Homo sapiens: one gene and its partner. The protein of the gene in region 1 purifies or fractionates together with the protein of each later gene. This does not show direct contact. Each region holds a gene or a part of one and is shown on either strand. Other genes may lie near its edges. The genes, in order: C5orf15 and SPPL2B.

Region 1 (3,926 bases):
CATTAACGTTTTGGTGTATTTCTGGTCTATAAATGTGCATATAATTTATACATATAGGTGTATGTAATGATTTTTAAGGAATTTTATCTCACAGAGTTTTTTTTTTTTTTTTTTTTTTTTTTTTGAGACAGAGCTTCACTTTGTCTCCCAGGCTGGAGAGCAGTGGTGCGATCTCGGCTCACTGCAACCTCCACCTCCCAGGTTCAAGCGATTTTCATGGCTCAGCCTCTTGAGTAACTGGGACTACAGGCGCAGGCCACCACGCCTGGCTAATTTTCGTATTTTTAGTAGAGACGGGGTTTTGCCATGTTGGCCAGGCTGGTCTCAAACTCCTGGCCTCAAGTGATCCACCCACTTCAGCCTCCCAAAACGCTGGGATTACAGGCATGAGCCACTGCACCCAGCTATCTCATAGAGTTTTATGTCCTGACCAATCATGAGCATTTTCCATATCCTTAATATTCTTTAAAAACATTATTTTTTTTTGAGACAGGATCTTGCTATGTTGTCCACGCTGGTGAACTCCTGGCCTCAAGTAATCCTCCCACTTCAGCCTCCCAAGTAATTGAGATTATAGGCGTGAGCCACTGTGCCTGGCTAAAAACATACTAGATTCATGGTTTACAATTTTTGGTTCAGAAATAATATTGTGATGAACATTTCTGTGCTGTTACCAGTTTGCTGGATTACATGAGGCACAAGAGACATCTGTAGGACAGGATACATCACATTTAGTGTGAGGGTACATGTTGGCACTCTACAGTCCCAAAGCTGAATAGTTAAGCCTTTTAAAATCCTTAAAGGGAGATCAAACACACAGTTCCTTTTTAATACTTACTGGTCAGGAAGTCTCAGTTCTTGACTTTATTGTAACTTGCTTTGTAACACTGTAAGCCACCTTCCCCTTCGGGGCCTTGATTTCCTTACCTGACAAATAGTGAAACTGGACCTGATAATTTCAAAATGCCTTCCTGCTTTGAGAATCAGTGACTCTAATAATAGTTCAAAAAAAAGCAAACCAACCAACTCTTCTGGTTATTTGTATTTAGTGCTATATTGCTAGCTTTGTAAGTGTTTATGGGTAGACAGAACCTTGAGTGCTGCTGATATTATATCCCACTGTTTAGTGTTTGGCCATCTCTATTATGAACATCAAAGGGACTTGTTAAACAAGTAGGTTCCTGGGCTCTACCTCAAGTACTAACTCAGTCTCTGAAGATAGAGCCTAGGAATCTGAGTCTTTAACAAACATTCCTATATATATTGAAATTTGAGAAGCACTGTTTAGCCTTCTTTACAAGATGGAAAGCAAAATAGCTTTTGTTTTTTTTTTTTTTTGAGACAGGGTCTTGCTTTGTCACCCAGGCTGAAGTGTTGTGGTGCTGTCATGGCTTACTGTGATCTCTGCCTCCTGGGCTCGAGTGATCCTCCACCTTAGCCTCCTGAGTAGCTGGGACTACAGGCAAGCGCCTCCATGCCTGGCTAATTTTGTATTTTTTGTAGAGATGGTGTTTCACCATGTTGCTTAGGCTGGTCTCGGACTCCTGGGCTCAAGTGATCTGCCTGCCTCGGCCTAAAATAGCTTTTTTGTTGTTGATATTTTGTGTTTTATATTTAGAAACCTAGAAGAGAGATATTTTACTTGTTATAAAAATGTTTACCATATTCTCTGTTTTCTCTTTTGCCTATTTAATGACTTCTGTTTTCCAGATTTTTCTTCTGGTTCAAAGCAGGAAATGGCGTGATGGCCTTTGTTCCAAAACAGTGGAATACCATCGCCTAGATCAGAATGTTAATGAGGCAATGCCTTCTTTGAAGATTACCAATGATTATATTTTTTAAAGCACTGTGATTTGAATTTGCTTATGTAATTTTATTTGCTTGACTTTTTATATGATATTGTGCAAATGTTTGCCATAGGCAATTGGTACTTAAATGAGAGGTGAGTCTCTCTTTTGCCTTGGTGCTTTGGAAATTAAATGTCACAAACGAGTATATAATTTTTTATCTGTACTTTTAGAGCTGAGTTTAATCAGGTGTCCAAAATGTGAGTTAAACATTACCTTATATTTACACTGTTAGTTTTTATTGTTTTAGATTTATTATGCTTCTTCTGGAAGTATTAGTGATGCTACTTTTAAAAGATCCCAAACTTGTAACTAAATTCTGACATATCTGTTACTGCTGACTCACATTCATTCTCCGCCATTCAAATACTATTTTTTATCCACATTTTTTTTTGTTCCCAAACTGTAATGTACAAGGATATGTGTGATAATGCTTTGGATTTGAGTAATATTTTTTTTTCTTCCAAGAAAACTGCTTTGGATATTTTTAGATAATTTAAACATAATTTAGGATAATGATATTGCTCAATCTGACCACAATTTTAGGTAAAACATTAAATGTGTCAAGAAATCTTGGCAACAGAGACTCTGCAGCTTGCAGTGGACATAGATAAAATGTTACAGAGATACTATTTTTTTGGTTGGAATTACTATATTAAATTTAGAAGCAGAAACTGGTAAAATGTTAAATACATGTACAATTGCTTTTAGTTAGCAATTGATTGTAGCATGGGTTCCTCCAAGGTTTCAAGCAATGGGCAGAGTTTAAAATTATATCAGATTCGTTTACTTCGTTTATTATTTTACAGTAAATTTGAATAAATCTTAGGGGTCATTATCACTTAAATAATACTGTACCTAGGTCTTTCAAATTAAAATTATACCTGAATGAAGTTGTTTGTATACATAAAGGATATTTGTGTACAATTACCTTTTTTCCCCCACACTTGTTTTCTTTGTTTTTGTTTTTTATGGCAACTGGAAAGTATTTACTATGGGATTCATTTATGTCTGTCTTTCTATCATAAAGAATTGATCAATATGTAAATATGTGATTTGAACCATGGTTGACTTACAAGTGTCACTACAGCTTTTTAGAAAACATAGCCCTAATATATGTTAAGCAGGACCCGGGTGAGCCAGTGGGCTTGCGCTTTATGTAGAGCTGGAAGAAGGCCGTCCATCCTGTCTCTTGGGCGGACAGTGTACTTTCCTAATAGGGAAGGGAAGCACAATGGAAATACCCCTGAACCGTTTTATTGCAGTAATTTTTTTCATATCTGAAACTATTATTTAATATTTTGAATAAGATTTTAAAAAATAAATGGCAAAGATATAAATCTATGATTTCACGAGTGTGTTTCTGTGTTTCATTTCAGTGATGACATTTAGGTGGTGACGGGGAGTAGTGTATGTCTGGGAGCAATCTAACCTGATTCACTTGCAGGTGTCCCTCTCAGCAGTGCAACTCTGCCTCTATGAATTCCACTTACATTGCTAAATTCTTCTTTAGGTCCAACTTACTGCGAGGTACTGAAGTTTATTGAAAACTGTAGCAAAGTAGGATGGCAAAGAAAAGCAAAGTGGCTAAATCAGTGTGCTCTTTCTAGCATCCTGGGGTCACTATCTGGGATGGAAGGCTCCCCGAGTGTGGAGGCTCATCCCCCTTAGTGGATTGGGGGATTCTTGGGTACTTCCTGGTGGTCCAGCCACCTAGGTCACAGTGCTGCAATTAAGTAGCCTCAGACTTTTGGAGCATCAGATCATACATTGATTAAAAATGCCCCTGGAGTCTCACAGAGGCACTTGAGCACTAGGAACTAGTGCTAGGGACTAGGCACGCAGGGGCCACAGTTGAGCCTCACAACCTCATGCCACCTCCTCCTGTGTGGTGTTATCTGCTCCTTTCTCCTAGACTAGACTCACTTTCTGGTCAGACCTGAAGCTCTGCACCCGATTTTGGTACTAATGGTATAATAGATTACCTTTTAGCTCCCGTTTCTGTGTCTTAGCTGAAAAGGAATGTGTTGGAACTTGTGGGGCAGACAGAAACAGACATTTAGAATTTGGGCAGTCAGG
Region 2 (3,810 bases), on another chromosome or scaffold:
GGGCACAGAGCTGGGGGCCCACCCACTGCTGCGGGTGATGCCTGCCGCTCCCTCCTCTGGGCCCCCAGGTCCCCCCGGGGGGTAATAAGACGCAGTATGATGAGATTGGCATTCCCGTGGCCCTGCTCAGCTACAAAGACATGCTGGACATCTTCACGGTAGGTCTGCGCCGGCTCAGACCCACGCTCCCGAGGAGATGGGGCAGGGGGCTTCGGGCTGGCTGCCGGGGGGGTTTGTGCCTCAGTTGGTGGGATCAGGGTGGTGGGTGAGGCGTGGCCCCTGCAGGCCAGGGTCTCCAGCCCCAGCCCCACAGCCCACAGCTGCACGTCGACCCATGGCTGGCGGGTGGCTCTGACGCCTGCCTCCGGTGTGTTCCTTGAGGCAGCGTTTCGGCCGCACGGTGAGGGCGGCGCTGTATGCGCCTAAGGAGCCGGTGCTGGACTACAACATGGTCATCATCTTCATCATGGCTGTGGGCACCGTCGCCATCGGCGGCTACTGGGCCGGGAGTCGGGACGTGAAGAAGTGAGTTTCGCATCGTGCGTGTGCTGTGACGGGGTCGGGCGGCTCTGACACGGGCCGGGACGGCCAGTCTTCCAGAACAGCAGTGAGTGCTTTGGCCTCGGCAGGCACGGCTCGCCCCGTGGAGCCCTTCGTTTCTTCCTCAGGAGGTCCTGGGACAGAATCAGTCTCTTTTCCTGCCAGGGTGGGCTCCGGGCACCTGGTGGGTGTGTAGGGCTGGGCAGGTGTGGATGTGGCAGGTACGGGCGTGGCAGGTGCAGGGCTGGGCAGGTGGCTGGGGCCAGCTACCCTCTTCCTGCTGAGCCGCCTGGGTCTGGGGAGGCCCCATGTCCAGGGCTCTTTATGCAGATCCAAGCTGCGGTTGCTGCCCACACGCCAGCCTCTGGCCCGGCCTAGTGGCCACCCCAGCTCAACCCAGGGACGCGGGCCCTGCCACCCTCTGCTGTGTGGTCTCCTCTGCCCTGGGGACGTTCGGGGCGGTTCCTTGCACTTCAGTCCCCCCCGGGTCCCCTCCTGCTCCCGGGTTTTCTGCCCCGTTCCCCCGGGTGGCTGTGGGCTCCCGAGCCCCGTGTCGGCCAGCCGGCCCCAGGGCCCCACGACCCCATGGTGTCTCCCAAGAAGGTACATGAAGCACAAGCGCGACGATGGGCCCGAGAAGCAGGAGGACGAGGCGGTGGACGTGACGCCGGTGATGACCTGCGTGTTTGTGGTGATGTGCTGCTCCATGCTGGTGCTGCTCTACTATTTCTACGATCTCCTCGGTGCGCGGCCCCGGGCGGGTGGGCCGCGGCGTGGAGATGCAGCCCGCCCCGTGCGGAGGGAGGGTGGCGTGCGGGCCTGGCCCCCGGCCTCACGGCCCTGCCCCTGCAGTGTACGTGGTCATCGGGATCTTCTGCCTGGCCTCCGCCACCGGCCTCTACAGCTGCCTGGCGCCCTGTGTGCGGCGGCTGCCCTTCGGCAAGTGCAGGTGAGTCTGCCCTGCTGGCCCCGACGTGCCTGACTCTGTGCGGTGATGGCCACGGCCCCTTTGCCGCCCCATAGCCCCCCATGGTGCAATATTGCTCAGAGTCTACAGCAGGCGCTCCCTCAGTGCTGGCCTGGGGCTCCTAGGCCCAGGAGCAGGGCGGAGTCTGGGCGAGCTATCAATGGAGCCCACCAGCAGCCAGGCGCCAGGGGTGGCGGGGGGAGGGTGCCCTTGTCCCCAGGAACCCTGCCCCAGGTCGCAGGCCGAACCCTGGGTTCCCCAGGGTTCTCCGGGGAACCCAGAAGGTTCCCCACAGCCCAGAGCTTGGCCTGGCTCTTAGGGGTAAAGGGAGCTGCTGGGGGGTCTCCAACAAAGTCAGACCTGGGTCTAGGAAGCGGGGCTAGCCCAGGGGGAGACCTTTTTGTGTTGCCGTCCCTGGGTGAGGAGGTGGGAGGTCTGGAGCAGGCAGGGCCTCGGGCGAAGGGGCGCAGCGCAGGCGAGGGGCTCTGTGGGTACAGCCCGTGGCCCCCAGCGCCTGCCCGGGTCGGGCTCTGCCCTGCCCTTGGGGTGCCTACTGTTGTCATCGTGTGGGATGTGGAGTTTAATGAGGACAACAGAGTGGGGGCTGCCACTCTGCAGGGGGTGCCTGGGCCGGTCCCAAGGGTGGTGGGCAGTGGGATGAGGCCGGGAGCTGGTGGGCTTGGCTCTGACTGCCCCGTGCCCCCCAGGATCCCCAACAACAGCCTGCCCTACTTCCACAAGCGCCCGCAGGCCCGTATGCTGCTCCTGGCGCTCTTCTGCGTGGCCGTCAGCGTGGTGTGGGGCGTCTTCCGCAACGAGGACCAGTAAGTGCTGCTTCCCCCGGGCCCCGGCGGGCAGCGGAGTCCTCGGGTGCACCAGGGCTCCTGGGGCCCTGACTCCCTGCCCTCCCTGGAGGCCGCCCCAGCCTGGAGCTGCTTCAGCACCGCGTGATGAAGAGCCCTGGCCCCGGGCTGCTCTGACAGGGCTGCGAGGGCGTTTCACCTGGGGTTTGTCCGGGTGTCATGGGAACCCTGACTGGAATCCGGGAGGAGAGGCCGGAGCCCCTGTGGCCAGGAGCCACGTCCTCCAGCCTGGATGGGACTCCTTTGTGGGGCATCGCTGCCCAGGGCCACAGTCTGTCCCCCGCTGTCCCTTTCCTGGCACCCACGTGCACGCCGCAGGTTCGAGGCCCAGGGTGTGGGCACCAGGGCACCCGGTCCTCTTGGTCATGACTGCTGCGGCTTCTGAGCAGTGGTGGAGGTGGGGCAGGCACTGCTCCCCCCACGCTCACCTCCCACGTGGCCTGGACTTGTGGCTGCCTCCCGCTGGCCGGGCCTCCCCCATGAGGCCGAGTGCCTGGTGCCGTGTTGGGAGGACAGAGCTGGCCCGTCCCCGCCCGGTCCCCACCGCTGTCGCTGATACCATCTGGCACTTCCTCCCAGCCTTCCTGAGGCAGCCAAGTACGCTTGGCTTTGGTGTGTATTGGAGCCACGGCACGTTTAACTGGCAGAAGGAAGATGTGAAAATATTTTGAATCCTTTGTACACAAAGAGAAAATGAATCTTTTCAGTTATTTCCAAGCCAGGAAACTCGCTCCGTCACATGAAGTTAGAGCAGGCCTCAGTCAGCTGGGCGCAGGGGCTCACGCCTGGGATCCCAGCATTTGGTAGGCCAAGGCAGGACGATCACTTTGCCCAGGAGTTCAAGACCAGCCTGGGCAACAAGCGAGACGCCCTATTTAAGAAATAATATAAAATCAGAAAAAATAACTGGCCGCAGTTCTCTGGGTGCTTGAAGTACGTGGCGCCTGGAATTGGCTGTACCAGCGTCTCCCATGGAGGCCTCTGCTGTTAGCAGCCGCCCCGCCCTGGAGATGTTTTTATCCCATTTTCAAATGAAGCCTTTGATGTTTGAGACGCTGAGGAACGCTGGGGAACTCGTCCAGCAAGTGACAGGCAGAGCCTGCATTGGGGGCAGGGGCCAGCGGGGAGGGGACTCTGGGGCTTCGTGGGGCCAGGAGAGAGCCGAAGTTGCGGCTGGCTGCAGGGGCCGTGGCCTTGTGCAGGAGGCAGTTCTGTGCTTTGCCCCAGGGCACCAACCGCATGGCAGCCCCACCCACTGTGGACCCAGAGGTTCTTTGAGGAAACCTGGTGTGGCACAAGTTTTAATTTAATAAACAGTTTGGGCACGGGGGCTCATGCCTGTAATCCCAGCACTTTGGGAGGTGAGGCGGGCAGATCACTTGAGGTCAGGAGTTTGAGACCAGCCTGGCCAACATGACAAAACCCCATCTCTACTAAAAA

The links.
Region 2: the proteins of C5orf15 (region 1) and SPPL2B purify together in Homo sapiens (co-immunoprecipitation; one large-scale study listed by IntAct). This does not show direct contact.

What each region holds. Positions count from the first base shown.
Region 1 is NC_000005.10:133,954,775-133,958,700, reverse strand, and holds the end of C5orf15 (keratinocyte-associated transmembrane protein 2 precursor), read left to right. Parts: intron 1-1,710; coding exon 1,711-1,842; 3' UTR 1,843-3,191; downstream 3,192-3,926.
Region 2 is NC_000019.10:2,338,684-2,342,493, forward strand, and holds part of SPPL2B (signal peptide peptidase-like 2B isoform 2 precursor), read left to right. Parts: exon of another isoform or gene 1-68; coding exon 69-158; intron 159-381; coding exon of another isoform or gene 382-385; coding exon 386-525; exon of another isoform or gene 526-607; intron 608-1,140; coding exon 1,141-1,283; intron 1,284-1,392; coding exon 1,393-1,489; intron 1,490-2,214; coding exon 2,215-2,331; intron 2,332-3,810. UniProt on the Homo sapiens protein: Intramembrane-cleaving aspartic protease (I-CLiP) that cleaves type II membrane signal peptides in the hydrophobic plane of the membrane. Functions in ITM2B and TNF processing.